Linked DNA regions of Homo sapiens. The protein of the gene in region 1 purifies or fractionates together with the protein of each later gene. This does not show direct contact. Each region holds a gene or a part of one and is shown on either strand. Other genes may lie near its edges.

The links.
Region 2: the proteins of KAT5 (region 1) and EPC2 purify together in Homo sapiens (affinity purification with mass spectrometry; 5 studies listed by BioGRID and IntAct, with this or other methods). This does not show direct contact.

Annotation. Positions count from the first base shown.
Region 1 is NC_000011.10:65,715,252-65,717,677, forward strand, and holds part of KAT5 (histone acetyltransferase KAT5), read left to right. Parts: intron 1-1,415; coding exon 1,416-1,556; intron 1,557-1,637; coding exon 1,638-1,731; coding exon of another isoform or gene 1,732-1,735; intron 1,736-2,421; exon of another isoform or gene 2,422-2,426. UniProt on the Homo sapiens protein: Catalytic subunit of the NuA4 histone acetyltransferase complex, a multiprotein complex involved in transcriptional activation of select genes principally by acetylation of nucleosomal histones H2A and H4.
Region 2 is NC_000002.12:148,647,751-148,651,250, forward strand, and holds part of EPC2 (enhancer of polycomb homolog 2), read left to right. Parts: intron 1-3,500. UniProt on the Homo sapiens protein: May play a role in transcription or DNA repair.

The DNA of each region.
Region 1 (2,426 bases):
GCAGTGGTGTTCTGAAGAGTAGGCATGGATGCACAAAGGTGGTCTTTGTGAAAGGCAGAGATCATTCTGGTTGGGAGGCAGAAAAGGGAGGATGAGGGAAGGCTCGTACATGGGACAGAGCTTAGGTGATGAAGATGCTGTGTTAACCACCATTTTGTAATTATTAATGTGGACCTGGGCATCCAAGTGGCAGTACCCAGCAGCAGGCGGTTAAAAAGCAATTCCTGGGCTGGGCACGGTGGCTCACACCTGTAATCCCAGCACTTTGGGAGGCTGAGGCGGGCGGATCACAAGGTCAGGAGATCGAGACCATCCTGGCTAACACGGTTAAACCCTGTCTCTACTAAAAAGTACAAAAAATTAGCTGGGCGTGGTGGCGGGTGCCTGTAATCCCAGCTACTCGGGAGGCTGAGGCAGGAGAATGGCGTGAACCCAGGAGGCAGAGTTTGCAGTGAGCCGAGATTGCACCACTGCATTCCAGCCTGGGAGACAGCAAGACTTCGTGTAAAAAAAATAAATAAATAAAAAGCAATTTCTGGCTGGGCACAGTGGCTCATACCTGTAACCCCAGCACTTTGGGAGGCCAAGGTGGGCCAATCACTTGAGCCCAGAATTTCGAGACCAGCCTGGGCAACATGGAGAAACCCCCAGGTACTCGGGAGGCTGAGTTGGGAGAATCACCTGAGCCTGGGAAGTCAAGGCTGCAGTGACCCACGATTGCATGATTGCACCACTGCACTCCAGCCTGGGTGACAGGAGTGAGACCCTGTGTCAAAAAAAAAAAAAAAAAACCCACAATGTCTGAAATGCAGGAGAAATCGTGTGCAGAAGTAAAGCAGCAGGATTCATAATTTTGCTGGGGTAAACCCTAAGGCAGTTATTTTGTTAAATTCCAGAATTCCTTAACTCTGTTGTAGAGTAGCAGATCAGTTCCCAGGAGGTGTGACTGTGGATGTAGAATGTTAGGTTTTTTAACAGCTAGACTCCCAAGACTGTTAGATAGGGAGTCAGTGGTCAGAGTCTCACTTTGGACACATTAGTTTGAGGAGCCGTGGTCAGAGTCTCACTTTGGACACATTAGTTCGTTGGCTGCTGTTAAAAAACATTAAAAGGCAGTGGTCTCTCCTGGTCAGGCTTAGAATGGAGGTGTGCGGAGCAAGGCGGGAAACTTGCCTGACTGAGCAGGGAGGCACTCAGACACCATCACACATCTGGCACACAGGCTTTTCAACACTGAGGAGCAGCCCTGCCTAAGCTGCGGGCTGGTGGAGTGGGTCAGGCCCAGCCAGGGAAGAACACTCATCACCTAGCAGCCTGGGGCATAGCACGAACAGTGAAGCTCCTGGTTGACCCTGAACCACTGGCCAGGCTCAAGGCGGGATACCCAGAGTGGTGACAAGCCTTTTCTCTTGCAGAGTTATTCCCAGAACCTGTGTCTTTTGGCCAAGTGTTTCCTTGACCATAAGACACTGTACTATGACACAGACCCTTTCCTCTTCTACGTCATGACAGAGTATGACTGTAAGGGCTTCCACATCGTGGGCTACTTCTCCAAGGTCAGTGCCTGCCCAAGCTGTCCCTGTGCCCTGTCCTGAGCCAGATCCCTTCCCTGACACTCACCTGTCCCCCTTCTCCAGGAGAAAGAATCAACGGAAGACTACAATGTGGCCTGCATCCTAACCCTGCCTCCCTACCAGCGCCGGGGCTACGGCAAGCTGCTGATCGAGTTCAGTGAGTATGTGTGCTGCGGCCAGGGGGTAGTGGACCCACTATCGGTGCCTCACAGGCAGATGGGCCAGGCTACTGTGATTCTCAACCCTGGCTGTGCAGCCCAGCCTCTAGGGGAACCAGCCAGAAATAACAGTGGCACTCTCCCGGGGTTCTCTCCGTTCAGGCTGACTGCCCTGCTTATCTGGGGTAGGTTCTCAGCCCCCCAGTTTGCTCCTTGGCCAGGGTTCTAAGTGCCACTCAGCTTTCCCCAAATCTGACTTACGTGCTCCTGCCTGGAGCCATGGGCAGAAGGTTAGTGAGCCGCTGGTGCTGATGTATCTGGTAACGTGTGCCATGATACGAGTACTGGGGCAAGGACCAGTGGCTAATGTCCCCAGTTGTCCCCTGAGCCTTGCAGGCAGGTATCCAAAATGCTGTCAGCAGATAGACATAAGCATGTTGTCCCTCGCTCCTTGTGTCCAGTGAGGTCAGTCTCTTAAAGCCAGAAGGGACTCTGAACTTCATCACACATGGGCTCTTCAGTGCCCTCCCCAACCCTGAGGCCCCTTCTTCCCAGCCTCTTACTCCCCATCACCCCCCATTCTGTCTGTCTCACCACTCACTTGGAATAACCAAGCTCTGACCTGAGAAACAAGGAGGAAGTTCTAGCTGTTGACCTGGTGAAGACACAGAGGCTTTACCTGATCAAGGTTATG
Region 2 (3,500 bases), on another chromosome or scaffold:
GCCTCTCAAGTAGTTGGGACTACAGGCACGTGCCACTATGCCCAGCTAATTTTTGTATTTTTAGTAGAGACGAGGTTTCACCGTGTTGGCCAAAATGATTTCGATCTCTTGACTCTTGCTCCACCTGCCTCGGCCTCCCGAAGTGCTGGGATTGCAGGCGTGAGCCACCGTGCCCTGCCGCGCCTTGCAATTTTTTTATTAGCTCTTTTAGAAAGAATTATTTTCAAACTAGAGCATGAGTGCTAAACTTGGATACTTTTCAGTAGCCTACTTCAATTGCCCAATTTTAAGGAAGAAGAAATCCAAATTCTGATAAAACTAGAGTTGAAACCCAGAACCTCTGATTCTTTGTCCTGTCCTTTCTGCCTCTTTAATACATGCTAAAAGTGGAGATTCTTAAAATCAAAATTAAGCAAACCGTAACAGTTAAGATTTATAGTCTGAAATCTTTTGCTTCCCAGAGTGTCCAATTGGAGTATTAGTTTTTCTTTTTCTTTCTTTTTTAAATATGTATGTCAGAAGACTTGTGTTTTCATGAGTGACAGCAAATTCATTTCTCTGGTCTTACAGGACTTCTGTTATTAAACAGAATTATGTATTTATAAAAATGGTTCTGCCTTGATAAATATTTCTAAGCAGCAGTAAAATGTCATACATTTCACAAATGTTTTGTGTTTCACTTGAATTGCATTTTAAGTAACTTTCAATATCTAGATGTCCTTAACTCCTTATTTTTATAAGATTTTTTTCTTTTAAATCAGTAGGCTTGTAACAAACAAACCAACCTTGGCTTACGGATTCACAATTGTTGCTGGGTGTCTCTGAACTGTGCTGTCCTGCTTGGTTGGCAAAATCTTTTGAAGCCTTCATGGATGGCTTTTTCCCATTCCCCCTCTATCCCCACCCACCCTTAAAATTAAGGCCTGTCTCTTCTGTGTAGCTATTGGACTATCATTAGACTTCGTTTATATAAACAAAGTCATTATTCAAGTTCGAGTTACATTCTGACTGAGTTACATTCTGACAATGCCTGGATGAGGTGATTTAGGTGTTCTTGGGCATTGGTAACATTGTATCATTGATAATCATGTCATCCTGTGTAGCCTCTTCTTTTGGACATCCAAACATCTTTTACTTCTTTTCTTCCCTATCCTTATTATCATTGTCCTCTGCTAAGAGCTGCCAGTTGGCATCCTCCTTTAACTTGGTCTTTGTAATGCTCCTCACGGCACTTGGTCTAGGTCAAGTACTGTACACTTATGTTTATTTAGAATTTAGACCAGAAAGATCAGGCAGCCAGCGGTTCTGCCGCCTCCCCATGAGTGTTGTATAGTGGTAGTTGATGTTTTTACTAATACTTGCCATTTACTGAATACTTCATATATCCGAGATACTGTGTTAAGGGCTTTACATATATTATTTCATTTAATCCTTTTTTTAAATAAACTTTTTTTGAAGTATACTTTACATACAAAAAAAGTACCTATATACAGTGTGGAGTTTGATGAATTTTGACAAATGCATACAAACATGAAAACAAGATATAGAACATTTCCAACATTGGAGAAGTTCCCTTGTGCTCCTTTGCAACCAGTCCCTTTCCACTCCTAGTCCAAGCAATTGTTGATTTGTTTTGTTTTACTGTAGATTAGGTTGCCTTTTCTACAATTTCATATAAATGGAATCATACATACTTTTTTATGTCTAGCTTCCTTTGTTCCGTACGATGCATTTAAGATTCATCCTTGTTGTATGAGTCTGTTCCTTTATATTGCTGAGTAGTATTCCAGTGAATTTGGTATGCTATCTTTATGCATCTCTCTGATTTTTTAGTTGTTTCCAGTTTTTGATTATCATTTAATTCTGGTAACAGCCCTGTGAGGTATTACCATTTCTGTTTTATAGAGGAAAAGCTGAAAGGTCTTGCTGCTAGTGCAGGGCTGAAATTCAGACCCTTGACATTGGTGTCACAAAAGCATATACTCATAGTCACCATGCTGCATATTCAGGGTTCTTACAGAATCCAGAGTTATCTTCTGAACTGTGATTAAGTTCATTATAGCTTTTGTAAATAATATTTTACTTTTTATAACTTTGGAAACCTTAGAAGTTGCCAATTTGGTTAGACTGTTAAATTATTAAGAAGTGTAGTTTTTTCATTACTTAATTTGGTCTGACTTTTGCTCTTGGGTTTTCAGATTTTCTTTCTTTTTTCTTAGCAGTTTGTGAACTTTGCTTTCCCCTGTATTGGCACCATTATATTTATCCCACTGTTTATGTTATCTTAAGCATATAAGAAATTTGTGGGAAACTGTCCCATTTTATTGTTTAGATTTTTCTCCTGCTAGGATATAATGTCTCTAAGGGCAAAGATCTTTGCTTATTTTGCTCATTAATATATTCCAAGTGCCTGGAACTGTGCCTGGCACATAATACATGCTTGCAAAATGTTTGTTGAGTGTTGAATGGGCTTCTATTTCTTTTTCTGTTCCAAGAGCTATATTTGTGTCTTTTCTCCCCCTCCCCCAATATCTATCTATATATAAAATTTATTAGCAGCATTTGATAAAGTCTTCTTCCAGGAATTCTTTTTGGTTGCTTACTTTGGTACTATGTATATCTAAATATTATATCCTCTTTTCCTCTTGAGTCAGAGGCCTCTTTAAATATAGAATCTTTTCACACGCCGATATGGTTGTAATGATAAATCTTTATCTTGTTTTAAGTAACTCTCATAGGTGTGTGTAGATTTCTGTGAGATACTTTTTCATACCAGAATGTACCAGTCTACATGAATCATGTGATTCACCTTATTTTTAAAGAAGATCCATGACTAATTTGAATTGCCATATCTCCTCTCATATGTTGTCTAATTTTTGCCGTTATGTTAATATTTTAAGTGATATTTTGAATTGATACAGTAGGAATATAATCCTGATTGATACCTTTTCAGAATTACTATTGGCACTAATATATTTCATGTTTCATAATGGAGAGGGTATAAAATGCAGTTTTGTAAGTTGATACTGTAAAAACATGAAGCATTTCTTCTTCTAACAAAAGCAAATGACATGCCAGGTATTATCTAAATGCCAGTTGTTATCTAAATAAGATATTGGGAAACTAAAGTGTTCTGTATAGGAAAAGTATGTGTAAGGCCGTGTACTGAAATGTTAGGAATAAAAGAAGATGCAGACTTCAATTTCATAGAACTTAAATGAACCATTAAGTCCAAAAACATGTATCTGGAAAGTTAGCAAAAACTACAGGGTTAAGACAACCTGACAGACATCAAAAGAGCATTAGAGAAAGTTAAATGTTAGTGTAGTTGAGAGGCATGAGGTGATTCATTGCATGTCATAAAGAAGGCTTCTTGGAGAGAGGCGTAACAATTTGGGCTTTCAGGTTTGGTTGTATGGTGTATGTTGAAGCAAATATTTGAGCATAAGAATATCTAAAGGAAGTTCTGAGGATGCTGAGTAGACCAAAGGAAGGTTCTT